Homo sapiens: one gene and its partners. The protein of the gene in region 5 purifies or fractionates together with the protein of the main gene of each other region. This does not show direct contact. Each region holds a gene or a part of one and is shown on either strand. Other genes may lie near its edges. The genes, in order: ABHD6, ABCB9, MLYCD, PIGA, PCDHA3 and TMEM59.

Region 1 (4,717 bases), on a different chromosome or scaffold from region 5:
TGTGCACTCTGTGGACAGAACTTCCACCAAGGCCTGGCAGGGGTCAGTGGGGCAGGAGGATGTGAATTTTAGGACCAAGTCCCTTTGGTGTTGGGGCTTGTGGCTGTCTGAATGGAAGTAACCATGATGCCTCCTGTTTTATTCTGCAACTCTGTGCCAGGAGTTGGGCTGATGTCAGCAATACTGAGGTAGAAAACAAACGTTCCTTGCCCTTGAGGAGGTTATGGTATGGTGGGGAAGTCAGAGAGCACAGGGGATGAGCAGGGTCGAGGGAAGACCTCGTTCCTGAGTCCCGGGAGAGCAGAAAGGGGACAGGGGAGGAGCATTCACGGATGTGGGAATGGCACAGGGTGGGAGATCATGGCGAGTGCAGGGGCCACCAAGGAGCACGGCGGCTGAGACACCAAGCACATGGGCAGTGGGGGTGGCATGGTGGGGAGAAGGGGCAGAGAGGAGGGCGCTGCTCCTACAGCCACACGGACCATGGGGAACCACAGGCTGTGTTAAGGTGAGTGACTTGATCAGGCTGGCCCTGTGGCTGGTTAGGGCAGCCCAAGCTGTAGGAAGGATGCAAGAGGGGAAGGCTAATTATCACAAGCTGGGGGTATCTCTTTATTTGTTGAAAAGGAGTTTCACTCTTTCGCCCAGGCTGGAATGAAGTGGCGTGATCTCAACTCACTGCAACCTCCGCCTCCCAGGTTCAAGTGATCTTCTGCCTCAGCCTCCCCAGTAGCTGGGATTATAGGTGCCCGCCACCATGCCCAGCTAATTTTTGTATTTCTAGTAGAGATGGGGTTTCACCACGTTGGCCAGGCTGGTCTCGAACTCCTGACCTCAGGTGATCCACCTGCCTCAGCCTCCCAAAGTGCTAGGATTACAGGCCTGAGCCACCGCACCCAGCTGGAGGTCTCTTTGAAGGTCCTCTGGGGATCCCCAGAGCTGTGTGTTTCTTGGCTCTAACCTCTGCAGATATGGGGAATGCTTTTCCAACATGAAAGCCAGAACTTTTCCAGGGCTGATCCTTTTCAAACAACTCATTTCCTCTCCTTTTCCTCTGGGTTCCCAGCTACTATGCCAATCCACCTCCATCTTTTTCCCCAACATCCTCCCTCAGAAGTGGATCCGCATTCACTCCCCTTCTCTTAGCTGCCTTTACCTTCAATTCATCCTAGACAAGAGGGCCCCTCCTCCCCATCCTTAACGGCAAAAGCAAAAGCCCCAACAAACTCAAGCACCTTCTGTGTCTTTGCTCTATTCTCACCAACTCAAATTATTAAAACCAAGATTTTCTGCCCACTGGGGAGTTAAGGTAAGACGATGCCTCAGTCAAGGAAAAGAGTCCTGCAGGGCATCCCTGGACCAGGAAAAGGAACAGCTAATGGGGAGCTTAACAGCTAATTCCAGCCAAGGAAATGGAAACCTCTGCCTTGTCACTCACTCACAGCTAAGGCTGCCACGGCAACCCACTGAGCAGGAATAACACCCAGCTACTGTGGAAACACTCAGAAGAAACGCAGATGCAGTCAATAGGTGAAAACAGCATGAAAAAGTGGAAACTCCCAACTGAGTGTCTTTTTTTGTTTTTTTGAGACAGGGTCTCGCTCTGTTGCACAGGCTGGAGTGCAGTGGCACGATCATGGCTCACTGCAGCCTTGACCTCCCGGGCTCAAGTGATCCTCCCACCTCAGTGCCCCCCAGGTAGCTGGGATGACAGGTACGCACCATCATGCCCAGGCAAAACTGAGTGTCTATCCTGGAGAGATATCAGAAACCACAACTCACAGGCAAAAATACCCATATGAGCTGCTGGCTTTGGCACTGTTTGCTGGTTAGCGTTACAAATCCATCATTCTCCATGGCCACCCAGAGGTATGTGCAACTACTGAACGACCCCCTGATGAGATATGCACATCTGTGGGAACCATTTCAGCGATTTCCTAGATAGAATATTCATATAAATGGTCAAAAACTTTTCCTGGGCTGGGTGTGGTGGCTCACACCTATAATATCAGCACTCTGGGAGGCCGAGGTGGGAAGATCTCTTGAACCCAGGAGTTCGAGACCAGCCTGGCCAACATAGTAAGACCTCATCTCTACAAAAAATAAAAAATTGCTCTCCCTCTCCCTCTCCCTCTCCCTCTCCCCACGGTCTCCCTCTCCCTCTCTTTCCAGGGTCTCCCTCTGATGCCGAGCCGAAGCTGGACTGTACTGCTGCCATCTCGGCTCACTGCAACCTCCCTGCCTGATTCTCCTGCCTCAGCCTGCCGAGTGCCTGCGATTGCAGGTGCACACTGCCACGCCTGACTGGTTTTCGTATTTTTTTGGTGGAGACGGGTTTCACTGTGTTGGCCAGGCTGGTCTCCAGCTCCTAACCGCGAGTGATCCGCCAGCCTCGGCCTCCGGAGGTGCCGGGATTGCAGACGGTGTCTGGTTCACTCAGTGCTCAATGGTGCCCAGGCTGGAGTGCAGTGGTGTGATCTCGGCTCGCTACAACCTCCACCTCCCAGCCGCCTGCCTTGGCCTCCCAAAGTGCCCAGAGTGCAGCCTCTGCCCGGCCGCCACCCCATCTAGGAAGCGAGGAGCGTCTCTGCCTGGCCGCCCATCGTCTGGGATGTGAGGAGCCCCTCTGCCTGGCTGCCCAGTCTGGAAAGTGAGGAGCGTCTCTGCCCGGCCGCCATCCCATCTAGGAAGTGAGGAGCGCCTCTTCCCGGCCGCCATCCCATCTAGGAAGTGAGGAGCGTCTCTGCCCGGCCGCCCATTGTCTGAGATGTGGAGAGCGCCTTTGCCCCGCCGGCCCGTCTGGGATGTGAGGAGCGCCTCTGCCCGGCCGCGACCCCGTCTGGGAGGTGAGAAGCGTCTCTGCCCAGCCGCCCCATCTGAGAAGGGAGGAGACCCTCCGCCCGGCAACCGCCCTGTCTGAGAAGTGAGGAGCCCCTCCGCCCGGCAGCCACCCCGTCTGGGAAGTGAGGAGCCTCTCCGCCTGGCAGCCGACCCGTCCGGGAGGGAGGTGGGGGGTCAGCCCCTGCCAGGCCAGCCGCCCCGTCCGGGAGGGAGGTGGGGGGGTCAGCCCCCCGCCCGGCCAGCCGCCCCATCCGGTAGGTGAGGGGCGCCTCTGCCCAGCCGCCCCTACTGGGAAGTGAGGAGCCCCTCTGCCCGGCCAGCCGCTCCATCCGGGAGGAAGGTGGGGGGTCAGCCCCCGCCAGGCCAGCCGCCCCGTCCGGGAGGGAGGTGGGGGGGGTCAGCCCCCCGCCCGGCCAGCCGCCCCGTCTGGGAGGTGAGGGGCGCCTCTGCCCAGCCGCCCCTACTGGGAAGTGAGGAGCCCCTCTGCCCAGCCAGCCGCCCCGTCCGGGAGGGAGGTGGGGGGGTCAGCCCCCCGCCCGGCCAGCCGCCCCGTCCGGGAGGTGAGGGGCGCCTCTGCCCGGCCGCCCCTACTGGGAAGTGAGGAGCCTCTCTGCCCGGCCAGCCGCCCCGTCCGGGAGGGAGGTGGGGATGTCAGCCCCCCGCCCGGCCAGCCGCCCCGTCCGGGAGGGAGGTGGGGGGGTCAGCCCCCCGCCCGGCCAGCCGCCTCGTCCGGGAGGTGAGGGGCGCCTCTGCCCGGCCGCCCCTACTGGGAAGTGAGGAGCCCCTCTGCCCGGCCAGCCACCCCGTCCGGGAGGGAGGTGGGGGGGTCAGCCCCCTACCCGGCCAGCCGCCCTGTCCGGGTGGTGAGGGGCGCCTCTGCCTGGCCGCCCCTACTGGGAAGTGAGGAGCCCCTCTGCCCAGCCACCACCCCGTCTGGGAGGTGTGCCCAACAGCTCATTGAGAATAGGCCATGATGACAATGGTGGTTTTGTGGAATAGAAAGGGGGGAAAGGTGGGGAAAAGATTGAGAAATCGGATGGTTGCCGTGTCTGTGTAGAAAGAGGTAGACATGGGAGACTTTTCATTTTGTTCTGTACTAAGAAAGATTCTTCTGCCTTGGGATCCTGTTGATCTGTGACCTTACCCCGCAACCCTGTGCTCTCTGAAACATGTGCTGTGTCCACTCAGGGTTAAATGGATTAAGGGCAGTGCAAGATGTGCTTTGTTAAACAGATGCCTGAAGGCAGCATGCTCGTTAAGAGTCATCACCACTCCCTAATCTCAAGTACCCAGGGACACAAACACTGCGGAAGGCCTCAGGGTCCTCTGCCTAGGAAAACCAGAGACCTTTGTTCACTTGTTTATCTGGTGACCTTCCCTCCACTATTGTCCTATGACCCTGCCAAATCCCCCTCTGTGAGAAACACCCAAGAATGATCAATAAAAAAAATAAAAAAATAAAAAAAATAAAAAATTACCCGGGTGTGGTGGCACATGCCTGTAGTCCCAGCTGCCTGGGAGGCTGAGGTGGGAGCATTGCTTGAGCTCAGGAGGTTGAGGCTGCAGTGAGCTATGATTGAGCCACTGCATTCTAGCCTGGGTGACAGAGCAAGAACCAGTCTCAGAACAAACAAACAAACAACCCCCCTGCCCAACAAAAAACAAAAATCAAAACCTTTTCCTGCATTGCTTCACACCAGGGCTAAAACTATGGTGAGGCAAATGAGGCATTTGCCTAAGGCACAAAATTTAAGTGCCAAAAAACTCATAAATTAAGAGAAAATATTTTAGTGCAGTATGTTAAAAAAAACATTAATGGAAAAAGGCACATGATGAACAAAATATCAAAATCATAAATACAGACAGGATCTGACCC
Region 2 (5,482 bases), on a different chromosome or scaffold from region 5:
TGGCCTCCCAAAGTGCTGGGATTACAGGCATGAGCCACTGCATCTGGCCTAAACATTACTTTTTTAAAACTCCTATGTACCTCCTAAAAAGAAGGTAATTCGGTCTCTGGAAGGTTCTTTTGTCTGCCTATGGCGCACTTTTGGGTGTGGGTTTACAAATCAAGGCACTGGAGCTAACTCCATAGGAGAGGGAGAAGAATCTGGAATTCTCAGCCTGAAAGTGCAGGGATGAGAAGAGACAGGCAGATGGGAGAGGAGCTTAGACTGGAACGGGGCTGGGCTGGGGCCAGGAAGCCCCTTGCGAGGGACTTTGCAGAACAGGAATGTCCAACACTGACGCTACAAACTAGAGATGCACAGGCTGGAGACCACCTCTACACATGTGCTTGTTGGTCCTCGGTTTTGTCAAAATAATTTGAGCCAATACATAAAAAACAGCTGATCTCACATGAAAATTGGAATTTCCAACTTCTCTGGAAACATCTGAAGATATGCTAAGTCTCTGAAAACTTAACCCCCTCTGCTTCCTAAAATCAAAAAGGAAGTCCTGAGGTTAACTTCAACCAAGGTTGCAAGTTCCCCTCTGTAGCAGGCTGAGTGGTGGCCCCCAAAAGCTTCCCTTGTCAAACCCCTGAACCTGTGAAGTGACCGTATTTGGAAAAAAGGGTCTTTGCAGATGCAAAGGACCGCTAGATGAGATCAGCCCGGATTATCTAGGTGGCCTCTAAATCCAATGACAAGTGCTTTTATAAGAGAAAGACAAGGCTGGCCAGGCGCGGTGGCTCACGCCTATAATCCCAGCACTTAGGGAGGCCAAGGTGGGCAGGCCATCTGAGGTTAGGAGTTTGAGACCAGCCTGGCCAACACAGTGAAACCCATCTTTACTAAAAATACAAAAATGAGCCGGGTGTGGTGGTGGGTGCCTGTAGTCCCAGTTACTCAGGAGGCTGAGGCAGGAGAATCGCTTGAACTCGGGAGGTGGAGGTTGTAGTAAGCCAAGATTGTGCCACTGCACTCCAATCTGGGTGACAGAGCAAGGCTCTGTCTCAAAAAAAAAAAAAAAAATTGAAATACTACTCTACCAGTTGGCACAGAGCCCTCCTCCTGGGACCCCAGAGTTCTTCACAATTCAGCAAGTAAGAATAACCACCGCAGGGGTCTTCCTGTGTCCGGGCCCAAACCTCCCTGCTGATTGAGCTGTCCTCCTGGGTAATATTTCTTTACTGCATGGATTGGGGTGGGTGTCGGGTGCCTGGGCCCCGATGGAAAAGAACAGGTGGCATTTGTTGGGCCTCAGTTCAGCTGTCCCGGGAAGCACAGAGGCCCCTGGGATTTCAAGGCAACGTCTCTATCCCCCTGCGCAATCCCCGTGGAGACAGGCAGACAGGAATGTCTACACCAGAGACCCTGGGATGGGAGGAGTGCAGATGGGGCTCCCAGACACAGGGGGAGGCCCTGGACCACCCAAAGTCTCTCTGCAACTCCACCAGAGAGGGCTGAGAGGAGAGCCGTGGTCTGGTGGAAAAACCTAACTGGGCGATGAGGCAGTTGGCCCAAGTAGAAGTCAGAGGTTAGGGGTAAGAGGTAGTACACTTTATTGACCGGGTTCTCTCAACATGTTGCAACCTCTGGCAAAGCCAGATCCTGGGCTTTGCCACCATCCCATCCACCAAAGACAGAAGAGAATGCATCTCATGAACATCCACGTGGCCTCCAGACAGCAGAGCACAGGGGCGGGTGTGGGGAGGGAGGCTGCCAGCCAGGGGTGGGTGGACGAGGGGCGAAAGCGCTGGGTGCCGGGCTGGGGGCACCCCTGAGGCCCCTCCAGACCTGGCCAGCCCCTCACTCCCCCAGTTGAGGTTTCGTGTGGTTCACAGTGAGACTGGCTTAGATTGGCAGCGGGCGATGGCAGACAGATGCCCTCCACGCTCCCTACCCGCCCTGGCCAGACTCACAGAGCTGGCAAGAGGGAGAGACGGAAAATCCCGTTCCCCGTGTCTCCCTCCGGGACAGGGAAGCCCCTTCTCTGGAGGGGTAAAGGGGAGAGGCCTAGTCTCTGGACATCCCCCAGGCTACTAAGGAAGGGCCATTCACTCCTGGCTCAGAAGTTTCTAGAACATCTTGGTGAAAGTGCCCGCCATTACTCCCAATTAGAAAAAGGTTTTTGAAATCTAGGAGTTGACTGGGGTGCCTCAAACCAAACAGTAAAAACCCTGGTAAGACCTAGGTTTAAAAAGGCAGCTCTACCTTTGCTTAGGAGGCTAGGGAGGTCCGTGAAGGCGTTGGCTCAGGGCAGCAGGGGTAAGGAGTGCCCTGGGAATGGGGCAGGGACCAGGGGCAAGATGCAGGAAGCGGTGATCCATGGGACATGGCAGGTCGTCTTTCAGTGCTGCAGGCCTGGGCTCGGAGGGCAGCTGGGGGCCTCCGTGGGCACATCTGCCAGGCAGGCACCGGGTCCTCTGCCCCACCGGGAGAAGCAGGGGCCCCCCATCAGGCCTTGTGACTGCCGTTGGCTACAGGCTCGTTGTGGCCAGCTGTGAAGTCTGCGGCGGGCTGAAGCCCCAGCATCTGCCGCTGCACCAGCTTGGCGTAGAGGCCGCCCTGGGCCAGCAGCTGCTGGTGGGTGCCCTGCTGCACTACGCGGCCCTTGTCCAGCACCACAATGAGGTGCGCGTGCTCCACGGTGCTCAGCCGGTGCGCGATGATGAGTACCGTGTGCTTCTGCAGGTTGCCATGGATGGCCTGCTGGATCTGCGGGGACAGTGGGGGCCTGGCTTGCATGGCACGGACGCCCCACCCGCAACCGTGCTTCATGCCACGGCCTATGGGCTGATGCTTAACCTCTCTGAGGCTCAGTTCACAAACGATGGCCAGCTTCCTGGGTTTTTCTTAAAGGGAGACAGCTCAGGGCCAGACACAATGAGGCACCTGGTGAATGGGGGATCAGCTCTACCCTGGCCCTCCAGTCTTCTGGTCCTTCCCTTCCCCCTCCTTTTTTTTTTTTTTTTTTTTTAAGTCTTGCTGTCACCCAGGCTGGAGTGCGGTGGTGCGATCTCAGCTCACTGCAACCTCTGCCTCGTGGGTTCAATCGAGTCTCACGCCTCAGCTTCCCAAGTAGCTAGGGGATTACAGGTGCCCGCCACCATACCCAGCTAATTTTTGTATTTTTAGTAGAGACAGGGTTTCACCATGTTGGCCAGACTGGTCTCGAACACCTGACTTTGTGATCCGCCTGGCCTCGGCCTCCCAAAGTGCTGGGATTACAGGTGTGAGCCACCGCGCCTGGCCTTCCTTGTTTCTTATCTGCCTTCCCCACTGGAATGGAAACACCATGGGGACAAGGGTCTTTGTCTAGTTAGCCCACGATAACCCCAGAATGGTGCCTGGTGCCTGGTGCCTGAGAAGAGCTCAGTAACTCTCTGTGTAACAAATGAATCAATCCGCGCATAGACTGAGGTTGCTAGCCATCTGCAAATACATGACTGGGCCCACCTGACCAGTGAGAATGCGACTCAGAGGGGAAGCACTAGCTTGAGGTCACACAGTTATAAACTGTAGGACGGAGCTGCTAATCCAGGTATCCCCATTCTGTTTTTTGTTTTTGTTTGTTTGTTTGTTTTTTCAGATGGAGTCTCACTCTGTTGCCAAGGCTGGAGTGCAGTGGTGCAATCTCGGCTCATTGCAACCTCTGCTTCCCAGGTTCATGCTATTCTCCTGCCTCAGCCTCCCAAGTAGCTAGGATTACAGGCACCTGCCACCATACCTGGCGGACTTTTGTATTTTTAGTAGAGATGGAATTTCACCATGTTGGCCCGGCTGGTCTTGAACTCCTGACCTCAGGTGATCCACCCGCCTCGGCCTCCCAAAGTGCTGGGATTATAGGCATAAACCACTGCGCCCAGCCTTTTTTTTTTTTTTTTTGTAGATGGAGTCTCACTCTGTCGCCCAGGCTAGAGTGCAGTGGCACAATCTCAGCTCACTGCAACCTCCATCTCCCGGGTTCAAGTGAGTCTCCTGCCTCAGCCTCCCGAGTAGCTGGGGTTACAGGCATGCACCACCATGCCCAGCTAATTTTTGTATTTTTAGTAGAGACAGGGTTTCACTGTATTGACCAGGCTTGTCTCGAACTCCGGACCTCAAGTGATCCACCTGCCTTGGCCTCCCAAAGTGCTGGGATTATAGGCATGAGCCATCATACTGGGCCTATTTTATTTTGTTTTGTTTTGTCTGTTTGTTTGAGCCAGATGGAGTCTGGCTCTGTCGCCCAGGCTGGAGTGCAGTGGCACAATCTCGGCTGACTGCAACCTCCACTTCCCAGGTTCAAGCAATTCTCCTGCCTCAGCCTCCCAAGTAGCTGGGATTATAGGCATGTGCTACCACACCTGGCTAGTTTTTGTATTTCTAGTAGAGATGGGGTTTCACCATGTTGGCCAGGCTGGTCTGCAACTCCTGACCTCAGGTGATCCACCTGCTTCGGCCTCCCAAAGTGCTGGGATTACAGGTGTAAGCCACCACTCATGACCCAGGTCTCCCCATTCTGATGCCTTCTCTTGCCCCACACCATACAGCTCTGCCTGGAGCCTGGAGGCTGGGTCCAGAGTGGCTCCTGGCTCCCCACTCTCAACACCAGGAATTCACCAGCCCAGGAGGCTGATAGTCTGGGAGAGCTCCTGGGGCCCGTCTCTTCTCAGCATCCATCTGCTGGGCGATGGGGGCTCTGGCCACCTGGAGCCGCTCCTGCCCCCGCATTGCCCACCACCCTGTGACTCACCAGATACTCGCTCTCGGCATCCAAAGCGCTGGTGGCTTCATCCAGGATGAGGACTGGGGGGTTCCGCACCAGAGCCCGGGCCATGGCCACCCGCTGCTTCTGGCCACCTGACAGCTGGGCGCCCTTCTCCCCTGTCTCTGTATGGTGGAGGCACAGAGACAATTTAGCAATGGGTGAGGCCGGGCAGCACCGGGGAAGAGTGAGAGGCCCTGCCCTGCAGCTGTGGAAAGGGCGGGCTGGAACCCACAACTTGAAAGCTCATGAAATGATGTTCCCCCCACCCAACTCATAAGGGGCATGCAGATTAAGCCTACATGCAAATTGATAGCAAGTTACCAATTTTCACTCATTCATTTGGCAGAAACCCAAACATCTGATAGCACACAGTGCAGGTGAGGCTGCAGGGAGACAGGCCCTCACCCGTCCTCCTGGAGAAGGGGAGTTGGAGCGAGCCCCATGGCTTGAAGAGCTGCAGCAATAACCCTGGGTCTATGAGTCTGTGCAGTGCAAAGGTTGTGTGTATTCACCACAGATGTGTGGCCTGTGGCCCCGCAAGCCCACCTGGACCAATTTTCCCCATGGACCGACTTCCTCCCATGCACAACAATATAGACACAGGTCACCTGTGACCCACAGCGCTGTTATTGCAAAAAATAAAACAAATAGACTCAAATGTCCATCAATAGGAAATTGAGTCAATCAATTATTATT
Region 3 (3,500 bases), on a different chromosome or scaffold from region 5:
ATTCTGAGGTCATCAACTCTCTCTAGGGTGACCTCGTTCTGACCTGGTCAGGACACTCTGGATTTCACGTGTCATCCTGGTGTAAGTGTCACTCTGAAATGTCCCAGCCAGATGGCACAGCTGGTAGTCATCCTGCCACGCCTGTCCTCCCCCTGCCCCTGCCCACACTCTCAGGGCCTCTGACACCTGATGTGCTGTTAGCTTGGGCCTTCTCATGGCCTGTGAGGGAGTGCTGAGGTGAGACCAGACAGCTCGAAGGTAAATGCATCGGCTTTTAATCTAACTCTCCTCTCTTTGCTGCCCTGTGAAAAACATATTAACCATCCTACATCAGAAATGTTGATGTTCACTCCAGGCCTAGGCTTTCAAAAACCACCAGCCTCATCAGGGACTTGGATAAATTCCAATGAGTAGAATCTAATAATTAGGTGCGGTAGCTAGATGTTTGCTAATGACTGGCTCTGAGCAGGGTGTTCACTGTGTTGGGGGCTGCACATGGCTGCAGCAGAGGCCTTCCTTTGAGGACGACAGTGTGGAGTGGGGACGTTTACATGCTCCTAGTAAATTCATAATCAATTTCTAATTGAAGCCCTCAGGATTCAGCTGGGCGTGGGCTTCATTACCACGCCGCCATGTTTCCCCCGGGTAACAATGAGCCGTAGCTCATTCCCACAGTTTCCTCATTCCTCTGTCTTCACTGAGGGTGGTGATTAGCAGGGCGGGGTGGGGAAATGTATCAGGGTAAGGAAGGCAGGAAGAGGAGGAGCAGATCCCGGGATTCGGGGGAGTTGGGCCTTAGCCCAGCAGCTGTCCTGAGGGTGTCGCTTAACTGCCCCTGGGCGGCCAGCCTAGAAGTCCTCAAAGGGAGTCTGGAAGGGAACAAATGGCCCCTCTGCGTGGAGGCGCTCGTCAGGGTTTACAAAAGCAAAACACAGCTGGGCGCAGTGGCTCACGCCTGTAATCCCAGCCGAGGCAGGCAGATCACCTGGGGTCAGGAGTTCGAGACTAGCCTGGCGAACGTGGTGAAACCCCGTCTCTACTAAAAATATAAAAATTAGGCATGGTGGTGCATGCCTGTAGTCCCAGCTACTCGGGAGGCCGAGGCAGGAGAATCACTTGAACCTAGGAGGCGGAGATTGCAGTGAGCCAAGACTGCACCATTGCGCTCCAGCCTGGGAGAGACAGTCTCAAAAAAAAAAAAAAAAAAACAGTGGTTCGGGGTGGGGGAAAAACCCCGGGAGCTACCACGAATGCCCAACGAGAGGAACATGGTGAGGAAAATCATAATAGGCTGCTTTTTTTATATTACTCTGTGGTTAAAATCTTCTGTTTTTGAATTTTAAATGATAATGAGAAAATGCTCACGATATAAATTCATATTGCAAAATATAAAGTAAGTGTCTCACCCATGCAAAAATCGCATCAAGAAACACCAGGAGTTTATCTGAGCAGACTGTCGAGAGTGGTTTTCTCAATGTAGTGGAGTGTGATGGTTTTATTTTCTTCTGTCATTAATTTTTTCAAAAAATATCTATAGTGAGCATGTGTTACATTTATAATCAGAAAGTAGCAGATTGTTTGAAATGATCATGAGATCTCTATCTAGTTGGGACAATAACGATTGAACCGTGTCATGTGATATGGAGAGATACCCGCAGCGTCCCCCTCCTCGCCCTCTACCCCGTTCTGCACCCGCCGTGGTGTGGCCGGGCAGCTAGTCGCTCACTCACCAGTCCCTGGCCACTCGTGTGCCGAGCAGCAGAGCAGCTTCCGGGGCCTCACAGGTGGCCATGGGAGGAGCATGGTGTACGGGAAAGACAAGGCCTGCAGTGAGTAGCTGCAGTGCACCGAGCCCCACTCCCCACTGGCCAGCTGTCTGGTTTTAGGCAAGTCCCCCAACACTCTAGTCTCGGTTTTGCCGACATGAGAAGGGATGGTGGGGACAGAGACGCCCTGCCTTGGGGAGTCAGGATGCCTCCAGGGTCTGGCACACATCAGGTTCCTGATAAATATTTCCTGCTGGGTGTGGCGGCGCGAGCCTGTGGTCCCAGCTACTCAGCAGGCTGAGGCAGGAGGATGGCTTGGACCCAGGAGATGGAGGCTGCAGTGAGCCATGATGACACCACTGCACTCCAGCTAGGGCAATAGAGCAAGACCCTGACTCTAAGAGGAAAAAAAGAAAAGCTGCTTGAAAGAAGATAAACAACATGTATCAGATGTCACTCTGACCGCTACACAGCAGCATGTGAGCCGTAGGTTAAGAGGTGCTCCTCTGTTGGTAACGTACCTGCTGAATTTGTGTTTTCTCCGCCTTCCTTTCCACCCCAACCATGCTTTACAGAGAGAGTTTCCTCACCTTGGGGTGTTTTCAAGTCTGTCACCTATACCTGGTTTCACCAAATGGCTTCTGGGGCTTCTGAACTCGCAAACGAAGGAGCATGGGAGGAATGAACTCTTTACAGATTCGGAATGTAAGGAAATCTCGGAGATCACAGGTGGCCCCATTAACGAGACCCTCAAGCTCCTCCTCAGCAGCAGCGAGTGGGTGCAGTCGGAGAAGCTGGTGCGGGCGCTGCAGACTCCGCTGATGAGGCTGTGCGCCTGGTACCTGTATGGAGAGAAGCACCGCGGCTACGCGCTGAACCCCGTGGCCAACTTCCACCTGCAGAACGGGGCGGTGCTGTGGCGCATCAACTGGATGGCGGATGTGAGCCTCAGAGGCATCACCGGCTCCTGCGGCCTGATGGCCAACTACCGCTACTTCCTGGAGGAGACGGGCCCCAACAGCACCTCCTACCTCGGCTCCAAGATCATCAAAGCCTCTGAGCAGGTCCTCAGCCTAGTGGCCCAGTTTCAAAAGAACAGCAAGCTCTGACAGTAAACCTCTCCTAAAGCACAGGGCCCCGGCTAAGAAAACGATCATTTTCAGGAGGGGCCGGGAGTTATGTATCTGAAGCAGCTTTCCAAGCAAAGCCAAAGTTGACTGTGTTCTTGTCCCGCAGCCGGTCCACACTGTGAGGCCAGGCCTCAACTTCCCTCACCCTGGGCGTGACATGCACCCAGTGCAAGACGGTTGTGGGTGCGGGTGCACACAAATGAGTGGGTTGCTGTGCTGTCTCCGGAAGATTCTGTCGTTGCCCTTGGCCTGGCTCCCTGCCCGGGGCTGGTGCTGTGGTACCTACATCTTCAGGAAGCTGTGCAGCCTCTGCCATTGCCATCCCAGGGGGATCTGGCATCCTCCTAAGGACCGGGGCGCGTGGCCCAGATAAGAATAGGTGTTCCTTTGTGCTCATAAAACAGAATGCGGCGATGGTTGCTTTAGCCGTTTCTCACCATGCAATGCAGAGGGACAAAGGGCTGTGCTACACTTCCCAGTTACATTCTGAAGCTCATAAATGTATGAGAAGGTTTGTGATTTTGCACAAGGTGTGTGTAGTAAGTTAAATTGTTGAACACAAAAATGTTGCTGCTTGAGGCATAAGTTGGATAATAGGCTTTAA
Region 4 (5,496 bases), on a different chromosome or scaffold from region 5:
CAGAAAAGCTGAACTCGTGTGTCATCTCTGTTACTTACTGTGTAACCTGGGTGAGTTACTTACCCTCTCTGAGACTCAATTTCATGTAGATAACATCTACCCTACAGTTGTTGGGAGGGTCAAATGAGGTATTGTACCACGAACAGGCTTTATCAACTGCAGAATACAAATGTAGGTTGTCATTACCACTACAGAAGGAAGCAGGTGAGCGTGCCTACACATGCAGAGTGCTGGTAAATCCTGACTGAGAGCAAAACAGGCTTGGAAGAGGAGGCTCAGGAAAAAGACATCCAAAAAGCCTGGATAAGGAAAACTTTGATTTATCCTCTCTCTCACTTAAGACATTCCAGTGGGACTTTGATATCTGGTCCAATAAACTCCTGAGGAAATTAATTTGTTAATAAGGAATGGACCATTAATACAACTACTCACTTTTGGGCTACAGGCATGGCTGTTCCTTTTCAGAATGTTACTTTCTGCAGGGTGCCTGGCATCTGGAGAGGGTTCGATAAATAACTGTTCAATTACTGAATTGAGTACAGGAAAGGCCATACCATCACTCCATTGGTGGTTAGCTCAGCTAGTTAAAATACCACATTAGGGAAGTAAAGGTAACAGGTTTAATCTTTGCATGGGTAGTTAATTTTGCTGATCCTTGATCACACTTGTGTCATACTCTTTCTCAGCTAGCCATCTCAAGAAGATATGCTATTTGGTTAAAAAATAAATTAGGTACAATTCCTAAGTTACAAAAAAACACATCACTAATGTCCCAGGAGGAATTCAGAATACAGAATGCCAGTCGGTTCACATGTTCCTGATTAAAGAATGAAAGCATGTCATTGCCTTCAAACCAGAAAATGAAGTTCAGGCCAAGTTTCCTTGCCAACCTCCACTTAAATGGACTGCTGGGTCAATCAAGATTCTCCATTCCAAACGTAAACTGACCAAGGCCCACATCTAGATTTTAGGCCACTCCCTAGCACACTGGCACACCACTGAATTCAGTGCTTGTCAAGAATCAATTGTTTGTTCACACATCTGTTTGATGTCAGTTGTACTTGTTATCGTCGTGTTGAGTAATTTAATTATCATATAAACTGACAAAAAGAGTATCCACAAAAACTAAGCTGAACAGTTTGAAAAATCCAATAAAGGAATGTCACAGAAAAAAGTTCTTGGCAGATGAGGGGTGTCCTAAACTACTGTATAAAATTGAAAACAAATTAAAACTCCTGAAGCATATCAGTTCATACGCCTTTAAGTTCTGACCCCACCCAAAAGAAACTCAAAGTAGCAATGGTAGATTATGTTTTATGAAGGAGGGTGTGCAAGATGCAGCTGAAACCAGTGGCCCAGCACTCAAAGCCTGCAATCCTACATCAAACTACGGGCAACTCAGTGTGTATTAATATTTTGAGTTTAATTCAAATATTAACTATTTAAGGGGGTATGTATTTATGTATTTTTTTTAATGATTCCCTACTATAAATGACACTTTTGATTAGTGGACAGGTTTTCAAATAGCACTCAGAAGACACTGTTTTTTATAACCAGACTGTGTCAGACTTTTAGTAAACAAGCCTCCACACATTCAACTGCAGTGTCCATTAAGTGCTGTAGAGGTACAAAAAACAGCCTCCTTGGCCAGGTGCAGTGGCTCACGCCTGTTAATCCCAGCATTTTGGGAGGCCGGGGCAGGTGGATCACGAGGTCAGGAGTTTGAGACCAGCCTGGCCAACATAGTGAAACCTTGTCTCTACTAAAAATACAAAAAATTAGCTGGGCTTGGTGGTGGGCGCCTGTAATCCCAGCTACTTGGGAGGCTGAGGCAGGAGAATCGCTTGAACCTGGGAGGCAGAGGTTGCAGTGAGCTGAGATCACGTCACTGCACTCCAGCCCGGGGGGTGACAGTGCGAGACTCCGTCTCAAAAAAAAAAAACCCAAAAACCTCCTTGATAATAGTGGACAGTTACAAACTAGGCTAATAGTTTATAGGAACTATCACTGAACCCTTGCGAGGTTCCCAATGTTGCTTACATTACACAAATGAAAAAACTGAGACTTAGAGATGTTAAGCTACTTGTCCTCGATCACACAGCAGGACAGACCCATCATCTGATCCCAGGACATCTAATCCCCTTTTCTTCATCACTTACCTGCCAATATGTTACTAATGTCTTATACATGATGAAATGAAACAAGCAAGCTACAATACAGTAACGTGCAGAGCAAGCCCACTGATTTTCAGTATATGTACGTACACATAAAAAAGACAGGAAAGCTATAAATCAAAATACTCATTAGGGTATCTCTGAATAATACAGTTACAGCTGATTTTAGTTTTCATCTTTGTGCTTTTCTTAGTTTCCAAAATATCTGCAATGAAAAGACATTACTTTGGCAATCAGAAGAAAAAAGCCATCTGTGAGCTCTGCCCTTTACTTCTTTTTTTTTTCTTTAGAGACGGAGTCTCGTTATGTCGCCCAGGCTGGAGTGCAGTGGCACGATCTCTGCTCACTGCAAGCTCCGCCTCCCAGGTTCATGCCATTCTCCTGCCTCAGCCTCCGGAGTAGCTGGGACTACAGGAGCCTGCCACCATGCCCAGCTAATTTTTTGTATTTTTAGTTGAGACAGGGTTTCACCATGTTAGCCAGGATGGTCTCAACCTCCTGACCCCGTGATCTGCCTGCCTCAGCCTCCCAAAGTGCTGAGATTACAGGTGTGAGCCACCGTACACGGCCTGCCCTCTACTTCTTTACCACATGTGCAGGGCTGTTTTAATTTTTAAAAAGATCTGAAATTTAACAGCATCAGGTTATTCTTATTTTTAGTAACCATTAAAACATCAAAGGTTGGGGGACAGCATTCACCACCATCCTGAAAAATCGCTCTTCTTGGATATATAAACCAATATTAGAACTTTCTTTGCTATAATTTATAGCATTATAAAACCATAAAACAAAATGAAAAGCCAAACAATCATTATATACAAGTATTCAACAGCTTTCTATAGGGAAAAAAGTCTACAATGCAATTATAGCTATCATTTCATTACCTTTTCTGTAAACAAGTCTGCTGACAACAACAATAGTTATACTATCATGCCTTCTAAATGGGTCTGGAGTGAAGTCAGTAGGATCTACAGCATTAGGAATGACGGACACTATTTCAGGATTCAGTGCTGCTCTTAGTACAGTATTTTCCTTACTAGTATAAGACACACAAATGATGTGGTTTGTATCACAAAGAGACACGGTTAGAAGCTTGTTTGTAAGCACCGAGCTGACATCAGCAAATCCAAAAAGGGAATGGTCCGTGAAGACTGTCTGAAGCCCCATTGTCTTGGCGTGGAAGAGAGCATCATGGGCCATAGCAGAAAAAGAACTATGTGAATGGATTATCGTGACTCTCTCCCGAACAAATATGTACCTGAGCAATGGCAGACTGTGAAAGAGGGTCGTGGCTGTAGACTGGTTGTACATGACTTTCAGAGGCAAGTAATAGACTTTGAGGCCACTGGTGAGGTAACGGATGCCTTTTCGATTTCCATAAGCATGGGTGACAATTATAACCTTATGCCCTCTTTCAATCAGGCACTGAGAGAGCTGGTAAATGTGGCTTTCCACGCCTCCCATATTTGGGTAGAAAAAGTCAGATACCATGCATATATTATGGGTACGGGTTCTACATGTGTAAAGACTTCCAGGGCTAACCCGAGAGAGTGTAGCTGAGGCACGGTGGCCATTCCCAGCTCCTCCTCTACAGGCCATGCTGAGACGGTTTAGACATCAGTTCTTAGAGCAACCCAGTTAAGAGATGTGTCCTCTATTACCTGAAAAAGAGTAAAACAGGATCTCAGCTCAGAAACAAAACACATTCCATATTACAAATCCAGATATAGATATTGTTTTAATGTTAATGTAAATTTGTTAGCTTTCCCCAGAATTAAAAATAAAGCAAATCATCAATTTACTCATTTGACATTTACTTGCTTGGCATTTACATACAACAAAACTAGGTTCTACCATGTCTTAATTTTGCCCTAAAAATACTGCTACATGTAACTTTAAATAGTAAGTTTGTTACACCACAGCATATCATGGTTTACCACGTTAACAAACCAGTCTCTTCCAATAATTAAGTATATATACACACATACATACACACATTTATATATTTCCCCTTTACTCTTATACTTTACCAGCTTCTATTAATACTTATTAAATGGCCACTATACATCAGCTACTACATGCTAAGACTCTTCTATATCTTATTGCAGCCTCACCAAAACTCCATGAGTTATCAACTCCATCTTATAAATGGAAAGTCTAAAGCTTAAAGGGGTTAAGAAATTTGTTCAGTTATTCAGTGCTTAGAGGTAACACAATGTAGCAGTCTGATTCATTAGCGGTCATGTCTTCTGGTATTTATGCCCTTCTATAGTATAGTCCCTTCCCGTTGCATTTGGACCTGGTTTAGCCCATAGAAGGTAGTGAAAGTGATGTGCAAATTTTTGGCCTCGGCCTAAAAAAGGTGTGGTGATTTCCAAGGTGTGGTGGTTTTCACTTGTGCACTCTTAGATATCCTAAGCCAAAGTGTAAGGAATCCATCTACTGTGCTAGAGGGACAAGGGAAGAGATAATATGGAGAAGGAAGAGCTCTGAGACTACATGGAAAGAGCCAGAGGCCCAGCCATCCAGCCAACTTACCAGCTAAATGCAGCCTCCTAGTGACCACTGGCAAGACCAAGAGAACCACCCAGCTGAGCCTAGCTCACTGCAGTATCATGAAACATACCAAAATGGCTATTGTTTTACATCGTCTTGGGGTGGTTTGGTAAAAAATAACAGACAACTAAAACAGGCCAGGATCCAAACTCGGTTATACTGGTCCACTGCCTGTTTTTGTAAAGTTTTATAGGCTCATAGGTGTGCCCATTCATTTATGTGAATGGCTACTTTTGTGCTACAAGAGCAGAGTAGCTACAACAGAGACCATATGACCCACAGAGCTGAAAATATTTACCATCTGGTCCTCTACTAAAGTTTGCCAACCCCTGCTCTATAGCTTAGCCACTGATTCAATTACTCTCAAAGTTTTGCTAGCATTACCTTTGTGGTTTACACTAAAACACACCCGGAGCTCGAACTATCTTTTTGAGAGCACCTTTTTCAAATGTCACCAGAGCACATGCTGCACACATGTTCTCCTTCCTTATTCAAAGAGGGTGATTATTTAGGCCGGGTGCGGTGGCTCACGCCTGTAATCCTAGCACTTTGGGAGGCTGAGGTGGGTGGATCACCTGAGGTCAGGAGTTCAAGACCAGCCTGGCCAACATGAAGAAACCTCATCTCTATTAAAAATACAAAAATTAGCTGGGCGTGGTGGTGCCTGCCTGTGGTCCTAGCTACTCGGGAGGCTGAGGCAGGAGAACCGCTTGAACCCGGGAGTCCGAAGTTGCAGTGAGCCGAGATCGCGCCGCTGCACTCCAGC
Region 5 (6,186 bases):
TGGACAAGGGAGCAACAAAGGATAGTGCCAAAAAAGGAAATAAAGAAAATGGAAGTGAGGGGAAGGAGAGGAGTCAAGAAAAATATCTATTTTACGTGTTAGACCTCCCACACTGTCAATGAGTATTAACCAGGTTTCAGTTGGTTACTATTTCTCTCCAGTGGTAGGGAAACTTAAATGGGAGTCCAACTAATTGCTAGAGGAGATAACCAAATATGTAGGGGTAGTGATTAGAAAAAAGTCTACCTTCAATTTCATTTGGTTCTGGTTATTTGGAGTTTTCTACTTATTGCATGGCACACATTAATAGGCAGGATGCTATTCAGAGAAGTTAACCAGTAATAACATTATAACATTGGCTTATCAAACTTATTTCATATTAGCATCCTTAGTATGGTATGCAAAAGACACTAATGAATAAAAAGTTTTGCTAGTAGGGATAGTTTTAAAATTAGATACCATAATTATTTTCAAGATATTGTTCAGATTGAAAATTATTTTTAACAAGATTTAAAACATTCTTTTAAAATGAATATATAAATATACTATACAACTATTAAATTTTCACTTCATATTGATATTTTAGTTATTAGTAATAAATTTTAACATATAATACAGTAGTATTATTAAAGTAGTATTAAATAAAGTAGTGATAAACTAAAGATGAACAAAGATGCAATTCTAAATGCAATTGTTATTCTCGATTTTTTTCCCAACTGGGAAATCAAGAAACAATAAACGGTATTGCCAAATTAGAGCACAAGGCCTAAAATGAATCATATTCAAGTAAAAAATAAGGATTGAGACTCCAAACAAGTGAATAAGAGAATAAAAGAGGTTCCATAAAAGACAACAGGTGTAATGATCTAATTTTTGAAACTGAAGGTGGAAAAGCATAATCAATAGGGAGTTATAAGCATTAGGTGAACTCATAAAATGAGCAAGTAACATTTGTACTAACAGGTAGTAGGAAGTCCAAATGAAAAGTGGCAAAAGATATTGAAGAAGCATTGTATAGGGATAAGTATAAAACAAGTCGAAGTCAGATTCTCTAAATAATGCAATTCATCTAAGAAAAAATATTTGTCTTATACCCAGGCATTTAGCAATAAAATAATTCTACTACTGCACCTAATAACAAAACAAAATTACAAGTGTGGATATCATAACTTACTGCTGATTTGGTTCAAAAATTAGCAACAAAAATCTTACCGTTTTAACCACAAAACCACAAAACTGGAAAAGTCTAATTATGAATCACATAATTCATACTTAACTATTAATGTATTTCCAGAGGAGTGGAAACATTGAGGAATGAAAAACAAAGACATTTTGGAAAGAATAAATAAAAATTACTCACTTTGGCTGAGAGATCAACGTCCACATCCTGTTTCTCCTCTCTATCCCGGCTAATTGGACAAGGAGGAAGGCTAGGGCTAAAAGCCATGAGGTCGGTCTTGGGCAACCCCTCTCCAGAGCACACCCTCTGCTGCCTCTGCTGCGAGTATGACCAGCTCCCCACCGCGCTGGAGCACACCAGCGTGGGCTTGCCCGGCCCACAGTCGCCTTCGGTTGGCGGCGCGGAGCACCGCAGAGCAGTATATAGCAGCAGTGTGAGCACCAACAGACTGGACACCGCGCAGATGGCGACGATCAAGTACACGTTGACATCCACCAGTGCAGCTTCCGGGCCCGTGGCGCCAGCGGACGCCTGGGACGAGGCCTTGGGTGCCTGGCCACTCTCCACCAGCGACACCAGCACAGTGGCCGTGGCGGTCAATGAGGGTTCACCGTGGTCCTTCACCAGCACCAGTAGGCGATGGCGCGGGGCGTCCACCTCGTCCAGGGCACGGGTCGTGCTGATCTCTCCCGTGTACAGCCCCACGCGAAACGGGATGCGCGCACCGCCGGTCCCAGGCTGCAGCTCATACGAAAGCCACGCGTTGTAGCCTGAGTCTGCATCCACTGCGCGCACCTTCGCTACCACGTGGCCCGCACCCACTGACCGCGGCACCAGCTCGCTCACTGCGCCACCGATGCCACCCACCCGAGGCATCAGCAGTGCCGGCGCGTTGTCGTTCTCGTCCAGCACGAACACCTGCAGCGTCACGTTGCTGCCCAGAGGCGGCACGCCCGCATCGCGCGCACTCACCTGGAACTGCAGCAGCTCTAGCTCCTCGTGGTCCAGCGGCTGCAGCGCGTACACCTTGCCGCTCTCCGCGTGTACCGACACGTAGCTCGACAGCGCGCGCTCCCCCACCCGCCGTTCCACCAGCGAGTAGGACACCAGGGCGTTCTCCTGCGCGTCCGCGTCCCGCGCAGACACCGTGAAGATGTGGCAGCCCGGCGGGTTGTTCTCCTTCACGAACACCGTGTACTCGGACTGCGAGAATGCCGGCGCATTGTCGTTCACGTCGGCCACCTCCACGGACACGCTGGCCGTGGCCCACAGTGAAGGCGAGCCCCCGTCCCGAGCAGTCACCACCAGCTCATAGGCCGACACGCTCTCGCGGTCCAGAGGGCTGTCCAGCACCAATGAGTAGTAATTCTTGAAGGTGGACACCAGCTTGAAGGGGACGTGGGGCGTCAGCGAGCAGGTGACCTGTCCATTGACTCCTGAGTCGCGGTCGGACACGCTGATCAGAGCGATGACTGTGCTAAGTGGAGAGTCTTCTAATACAGGTAAAGATAGTGATTGAATAACTAACTCAGGTACATTATCATTGATGTCCACAATTTCGAGTAGAACTGTGCAGTGATCTGACATTGGGGGATTTCCTTTATCCGTGGCTTCTACCTGGATTTCATATGACTTACTTTCCTCGAAATCTATGTTACCCTTTACACTGATTTGTCCATTGACTGGATCTAAATGGAATTTTGACAGAATATCTGCTGACATGTCCGTATTGAAAGAATACGCGATATCCTTATTTACTCCTTCATCCAAATCGGTGGCGTTAACGGTCACCACTAGGGTACCATTTGGTGCATTTTCGAGTAATCTGACTTTATAGATCGTCCTCTCAAACGCTGGGGCGTTGTCGTTTACATCTAAAACAGTGATCTTTAGTTGAGTCGTGCCAGTGAGCTCTGGTTTCCCACCATCAATTGCTGTTATTAGTAAATAATGCTTAGGAGTGTCCTCTCGATTTAAATTTTTTTTCAACACGAGTCCAAGGGATTTAATTTCCTCATCATTTCTTTTAACGTCCAAGGTAAAATATTCAGTGGAATCAAGACTGTAAGTCAACAACGAATTTGTTCCGATATCTGCATCTGATGCGCCCTCTAGCGAAAACCGAGAGCCAGGCTGTCGGGATTCGGAAATAAACAGATTCTTTACAGCCATTGGAAAAACTGGCGCGTTGTCATTAATGTCCTTCACTTCCACCTCCACATGGAAAACCTGCAGCGGCCTGTCCACGATCACCTCCAGGTGGATGCTGCACTCCGCGCTCCGCCCGCACAGTTCCTCGCGGTCTATCCGAGAATTCACAAACAAAATGCCATTCTGCAGATTTACCTCCAGAAGGTCCCCGTGTCTTTTGGACGCCACCCGGAACAGGCGCGGCACCAGCTCCGCCAGCTCCAGCCCCAGGTCCTGCGCGATGCGGCCCACGAAGGTGCCATGCTTGGCCTCCTCAGAGACGGAGTAGTGGAGCTGGCCGCTCCCCACCTCCGAGGCTGCGAGGAGCAGAAGAGAAAGCAGCAGGCACTGGGCTCCAGGATCTTCTCGCCAGGAGAACAACATTGCAAGTATTTTCCAAATATTAGATTGCCTTTACATTGATCCAAAGTTTAAAAATAATTCGAGTTCCTTATCTTCATTTCTTAAACTCCTCGGTGTTAAATTTTAGAGAGGATGAAGCAAAGCAGTATCTGAATACGTAATGCACGCTGTTATTTCTTTTGTGGAGAAAGACCTTGTGGTGGACAGCGACATCATGTGGCTAAACGTGTAAGTATTAAATATGTAAACGTATCTTCTTTTCCTTGTATGTCGTTTGAACTTTCCCAAAATTTCTAGTTTCAATTGTAATATCCTTCGGTCACTCCTCAAAGTCCTTATATTTTATCTAAATATTTCCTTAGAACTTTTATACTAATTCACTATCAATTGTGCTAATTCATGACATACACTAAAATATTGTGATTCCTGTTTTAACAGTGGACATCTATTGGAAATATTTCCCATGTGACAGCCACTTTTCTATTTGTCTTAATGGAATTATCCCGTTAAATTATCACAATCCTCTGAAATAAGTTTTAATATTATTCGCTTTTTATAAACACATAGAGGTTAAGTAAAACGATATTATCTCTTGGTACGATGGGATTTCAATCTGATTCAAGACAACTTACCATTAACCTCTTTACCACCCAAGTTACATTTTATAGAAAAATCAGATCCTTTCAGATTTATGATCATCAAAACATTGAGATGTTGAAGTATTTAAAAGTGTGTGTGTGCTGTATATATTAAAACATACATATATCTACTTTTATGTTATTACAGCAACTGTTAATTTCTTAAAATATGTACATTTATGGTTTTTTAAATTTGTAGAATGTCTGTAATTCCCTCCCATGCCCCTTTTTCAAGAACTATAGCCTCATCAACTGTCTTGACTGTAACTTACATAAAGATTTCAGAAGTCGGTCCTTTACAGAGAAATTCAAACAGGAAATTTGTTTCCTATTGTGGGAATGTGATTTGTATATTTGTTACACTCACATCACATCAATTAAGAATATATTAGGTTTAATTTTTCCACACTCTTTATGTATTTGAATTTACCTGTATATACTAAAATGTTAACAATATAAAGTAATTACGTTTTTGATGATCTCCACTCCTGATGAATTTCTAGATTCCAGTTTTTTTAAAAGTTGTTACTTGAAAGAATTGATTATTTAACTAAACAGTGAAGGGAGAAAAGTAACCTAGGAACATAAGCCAGTATTTACTCAACATATTTAACACTAAGCAATAAAACATTCTAAAGATATCTGTGAATTCAATGAGAAGCATGAATTCTCGCCGCATTTGGAAGTGGGGCAAAGAAAATTTATGGAAAGAGGTCAAATTTAGAGAAATAAAATAATGTACAAATTTTTGCTTATACCCAGACCATTTAAAAATGAAATCAAACATGTGATTTAAATATTTAGGGGAAAAGTTTTCATTTCAGCTTTTGTTTCCTGTGTATTCATGAAATGGAAGCCAGGACTGCAACTTACTCAGATTTTATCATTCATATTTAGAATAGGATAAATTATCAATTGTTGTTTTCATGAATAAATAAATTAATATTTTGAATTAACTTTTTCAAGCAAGATAAATAAAAATGTAAGTTAATGATATTTGTTAATATCAAACTTACATAATTTCTAAATGATTATATTGTGCTATATTATGAAGAAGTAAGTAAACATTTAAGCATTATTTCTGAAAAGCATGGACCTAAGAAATAATTATAGCTATTAATATTCCAGTTACCACTTTGCTGAATTTTTAAAGATGGTAGCTAGTTTGAAAATAAGAGATAAATTTAAAATTTTTAAACTTCATGGACTTCATAGTAATGAGATGCCTTTGACAACTTATTGTAATACTGCACTTTTCAGTACCTTTAAGAGTTATACTAATTGCAAAATGGAATGTCACATGAGAATTTATAGCAGAGTAGACTCCATACTGATTATTAAGAGATAAAGGTAATATTAAAGGAACTATGAGTTTAGAAGATTGAGCCATTTTGTAGATAAAGTATCAGTGAATAATTTCTACTACCACCTAGATGTCACTTAGACAACCAAGAAAAAATGTAAATAAGAATGTTTTGAAAAAACTTATAGAGCAACAGATTGTGACTCCTGGAGATTTGGATATATGTGAATATAATTTTAGAAGCTTATCATTTACCTATGGTAGAAACATAGTGGTCAAGTATTACTTGGAAATGGATATTCTGACCTAACTATGAAATGGCTAAAGGTAAGATCACTAGTGGAAGTTATTTCTATGATTTATCAATATGCACATATATTTAGAATAAACAGCAAATAACTAAGAACTAAATAGTAGAGGACCGTTTAAGACAGTTATTTTATTGCAATACATCTGCCTTTGGTTGGAAAAGCTAAAAAAGTTCTTTCCAAGTGTAACATTTACTTGTCGAG
Region 6 (3,500 bases), on a different chromosome or scaffold from region 5:
GCAGTGAGCCAAGATTGTGCCACTGCACTCCAGCCTGGGGGACAGAGCAAGACTGCATCTCAAAAAAAGAAAAAAAAAAAAGAAATCTCAGACACTTTTTGAGAACTAATTATTTGTTGCAAGAAAGTAGAATACCTGTTTGTAAATAGTTATTTTTAAATTATTCTATGTTTTATCTACAGAAGTGCAATTGCATAATTTATCTCGGTCGAAAAAACAAGAGACATAAATCATGTTAATAAAAAAGCTAATTAGAGCCAGCCTGGTCATTTTTTAATGGAGTGTGGTCTCTAGAACCATACAGACCTGGTTTTATTCCCAGCTCCTTGATTACTGTTTGTCCTTGCTGATCACTTAACTTCTATTTATTTATTTTTTAATTTAAAATAATTGAAACAGGGTCTTGCTGTGTTGCCTAGGCTGGTCTCAAACTCCTGGGCTGAATGGGTCCTTATGTCTTGACCTCCCAAAGTGTCGGGATTACATGCATGAGCCACGGTGCCTGGCCTAAATAGTACCATTGAGGGACCTTCTAATTATGAATTTAGCTGGTATTTCATATGGTGGAAGCACTATTTATTGTGTCCTAAATCAGAGGAGATACATGTTATATAAACTTGCCAGTCATTTGGGATACATAGGGCATGAAATATTTACTTGAAATCATTATTTTTGTATATATAACATGAAATACTTAGAATAAAGATATGATTCTTGATAGCTACCAGTTGAGTGCCTGCTCCATACCAGATGTTTCATAATTTGTTAAGTCTTAATACAGTGCCTGGCACATTGTGGATGCTCATTAAATATGTCTGTCTATTAGATAGTACTACATAGTAGTAATGCTATTGTAGATATAAATATATAATTCTCCTAATAGTGAAGATTGACACTCTGCAATTATACAGGCAGTAGAAAATAAATGAATAGTAGTTAGGATTGATGTAAGAGTATTGTCCTTATTTTACAACTGAGGAATTAGATTAAGTAACTTGTCAAAGGTTGTGCAGAATAAGTGGCAAGTCTGAGCTTCAAACCAGGGCCGATTCCTGAAACCTCGGCTCTTTTCACCATGCCATATGGTTTTCCGAAATTGGTACTGGATGACTTATTAAAGGAAAGCATATCTGAGAATGAAATGGCATGTGGTATAGCTCATACTAATGAGCTTATGCTTCCTTTGTGCAATATAAGGAAATATGTGGTGCTCCAGAGACATAAAATAATTCTTTAACTGTTTTACAAAGCCTGCAACAGCTACTCAGATATGAAATCTATCTCAATTGTTAAAATTCTTTCAATTTCATCTTAACAGTAAATGCAGTTGGAACTGAGGTCCAAAAGTGTGCTACCTTCAAAGTTGTATGATAAAGTATATTTAATATTAGACTGCAGGCATCTCTTCTTGATGGATTGTTGCTGCTGCGTAAATTTTACTAATCCTTTTGCTGGAAAGAAATACATAGCTTGTATTTCATTGGTTGCTAACTGGTATATGCACATGCTGTTTCCTTATTAGGTGTCTGCCAGTTTGTACACAGTGGATCACATAGTAAGTCGAGGGGGCTCCCCCATATGCAATAGCTTTTTTTAAATACTTTTATTTTATCAAAGAAAAACAGCTGAAGACATTAGTCTTATTAAGCAGTTAATATTTTACAGTAATGAAGAACCAGATGTCCATCCTGTCTTAAGCTTTCACACGTATACATTGATGCCTGTAATTGTTTTCTATTTTAAAAATCTATTAACACTATTACCATTTATTAAGCACCTTCTACATCCCAGGCACTATACTGGAAATAGCTTCCAAATTATTGAGGAATTTGGAGATAATGGCTGTTCTCTCCTTTTTTGATGAGAAAGCTGAGATTCTTAGACAGGTAAAATAACTTATGCACTCACCCAAAAGGTTTGATCTAGGTCTGGCTGATTGCAGTGTCCTTTCCCATACACCACACTGTTGCTCCTGTGTTTTCATTTAATGTAAGCCCAGTTTTAAAAAATCCCTTCATATAAACATTTTTATAGATGTATACCTTACTTTATCAGGCCCTTGTGTCACCATTTGCCATGTGAAGCTAGTCTGATACTTTTCCTGATAAGCCTGGTGATTCATATAAACAGGGATGTGGCAGAAGTATGCCATTGGTCCTAGGGTACTTGCTTACTCCTATCGCTGTTAAAGTTCTAGTTATATCACCGTTGTGTTTTTTGTTGTTGTTGTTTTTTAAGCAACAGGGTCTCACTTTGTACCCCAAGCTGGAGTACAGTGGTGTGATTATAGCTCACTGTACCCTCAAACTCCTGGGCTCAAACAATCCTCACACCTCAGCCTACTGAGTACTAGGACAACAAGTGTGCACTACCATACCCAGTTATTTTTGTGTGTGTGTTTGTTTTGGTACAGATGGGGTCTCGCTATATAGTCCAGGCTGGCCTCAAACTGTTGGCCTCAAGCAGTCCTCCCACCTCAGCTTCCCAAAGCCCTGGGATTACAGGTGTGAGCCACTGCACCTGGCCTGTCACTATTAGTTTTATTTTTAATTTTTCCCCCCCACAGATTGTAACCAAAGAAAATGGAAAAAGGGTGGTGGTTTTACCTACTAGGCTTTTTTCTTCGTATCACTTTTAAAATAAGGAACTAAAACCTCTATATGGCAAAGGTCTTGAGTATCAACTGGCTCCTATCATTTTTTTCTTTCAGTTATGAAACTTACTGGACGATTTGTAATAAACTTTACTAACTGCTTTCTTCCTAACCTGTTTTCCCCTGAGGAAAAAAAAATACTATTTTTTGGTAACCCTTCCTGTTCTTGAACTCCCTAGGAAGAGGAGTTGTACGCATGTCAGAGAGGTTGCAGGCTGTTTTCAATTTGTCAGTTTGTGGATGATGGAATTGACTTAAATCGAACTAAATTGGAATGTGAATCTGGTAAGATGCTATGCTAACGACATCAGCTGTATGTAACATTGTTTTCTTTGTGATAAGCTTTTGAAGTATTTTCTTTAGGAAATGGAAAACACACTGTTGAAACTAGTCATCTAACATATTGTAATTATTATGGATCTAAGAGTTTTCGTAGCTGCTGCTAGAAATTTCATGGGCTTTAAATTTCATCTGTTTGTTGAGACAGTGTTTATTTTCTGCTATGAATAGGACACCTTTGTTTAACCAAGCATTCTGTCAGACAAATGCAGTATAATTACCCTACTCACAATTCATTACTACCTTTTCACAGATAGTATAATTTTCCTAAACCTTTCAATCATAAGTTCATCGACTTATCTCCAAGTTTTTTACTGAATCAGGCCTTTGACTCAGTATTTAATAGCATATTATTCATTGGTCAGGCCATTAAAATAAGTAGCCAGAGGCTTTGTCATCTGTTAAACCACTTTTCTTTCTTTTTGCTGAAAGCAATATGTTTAACAAAAGAAACCTATAATCAGGACACAATTGACGTTTAACTTTTTAAATAACTATAATGGAATAT

Evidence for each region.
Region 1: the proteins of PCDHA3 (region 5) and ABHD6 purify together in Homo sapiens (affinity purification with mass spectrometry; 2 studies listed by BioGRID and IntAct, with this or other methods). This does not show direct contact.
Region 2: the proteins of PCDHA3 (region 5) and ABCB9 purify together in Homo sapiens (affinity purification with mass spectrometry; 2 studies listed by BioGRID and IntAct, with this or other methods). This does not show direct contact.
Region 3: the proteins of PCDHA3 (region 5) and MLYCD purify together in Homo sapiens (affinity purification with mass spectrometry; one large-scale study listed by BioGRID and IntAct). This does not show direct contact.
Region 4: the proteins of PCDHA3 (region 5) and PIGA purify together in Homo sapiens (affinity purification with mass spectrometry; one large-scale study listed by BioGRID and IntAct). This does not show direct contact.
Region 6: the proteins of PCDHA3 (region 5) and TMEM59 purify together in Homo sapiens (co-immunoprecipitation; one large-scale study listed by IntAct). This does not show direct contact.

Annotation. Positions count from the first base shown.
Region 1 is NC_000003.12:58,288,820-58,293,536, reverse strand, and holds part of ABHD6 (monoacylglycerol lipase ABHD6), read right to left. Parts: intron 1-4,717. UniProt on the Homo sapiens protein: Lipase that preferentially hydrolysis medium-chain saturated monoacylglycerols including 2-arachidonoylglycerol. Through 2-arachidonoylglycerol degradation may regulate endocannabinoid signaling pathways.
Region 2 is NC_000012.12:122,927,421-122,932,902, forward strand, and holds the end of ABCB9 (ABC-type oligopeptide transporter ABCB9), read right to left. Parts: intron 4,909-5,482; coding exon 4,772-4,908; intron 2,752-4,771; coding exon 2,491-2,751; 3' UTR 1,572-2,490; downstream 1-1,571. UniProt on the Homo sapiens protein: ATP-dependent low-affinity peptide transporter which translocates a broad spectrum of peptides from the cytosol to the lysosomal lumen for degradation.
Region 3 is NC_000016.10:83,912,615-83,916,114, forward strand, and holds part of MLYCD (malonyl-CoA decarboxylase, mitochondrial), read left to right. Parts: intron 1-2,341; coding exon 2,342-2,875; 3' UTR 2,876-3,500. UniProt on the Homo sapiens protein: Catalyzes the conversion of malonyl-CoA to acetyl-CoA.
Region 4 is NC_000023.11:15,328,158-15,333,653, forward strand, and holds part of PIGA (phosphatidylinositol N-acetylglucosaminyltransferase subunit A), read right to left. Parts: intron 3,836-5,496; 5' UTR 3,774-3,835; coding exon 3,059-3,773; intron 2,491-3,058; exon of another isoform or gene 157-2,490; coding exon of another isoform or gene 64-156; intron 1-63. UniProt on the Homo sapiens protein: Catalytic subunit of the glycosylphosphatidylinositol-N-acetylglucosaminyltransferase (GPI-GnT) complex that catalyzes the transfer of N-acetylglucosamine from UDP-N-acetylglucosamine to phosphatidylinositol and participates in the first step of GPI biosynthesis.
Region 5 is NC_000005.10:140,798,766-140,804,951, reverse strand, and holds the start of PCDHA3 (protocadherin alpha-3 isoform 1 precursor), read right to left. Parts: upstream 3,896-6,186; 5' UTR 3,755-3,895; coding exon 1,361-3,754; coding exon of another isoform or gene 1,280-1,360; exon of another isoform or gene 1-1,279. UniProt on the Homo sapiens protein: Potential calcium-dependent cell-adhesion protein. May be involved in the establishment and maintenance of specific neuronal connections in the brain.
Region 6 is NC_000001.11:54,046,705-54,050,204, reverse strand, and holds part of TMEM59 (transmembrane protein 59 isoform 2 precursor), read left to right. Parts: intron 1-2,832; coding exon 2,833-2,938; intron 2,939-3,500.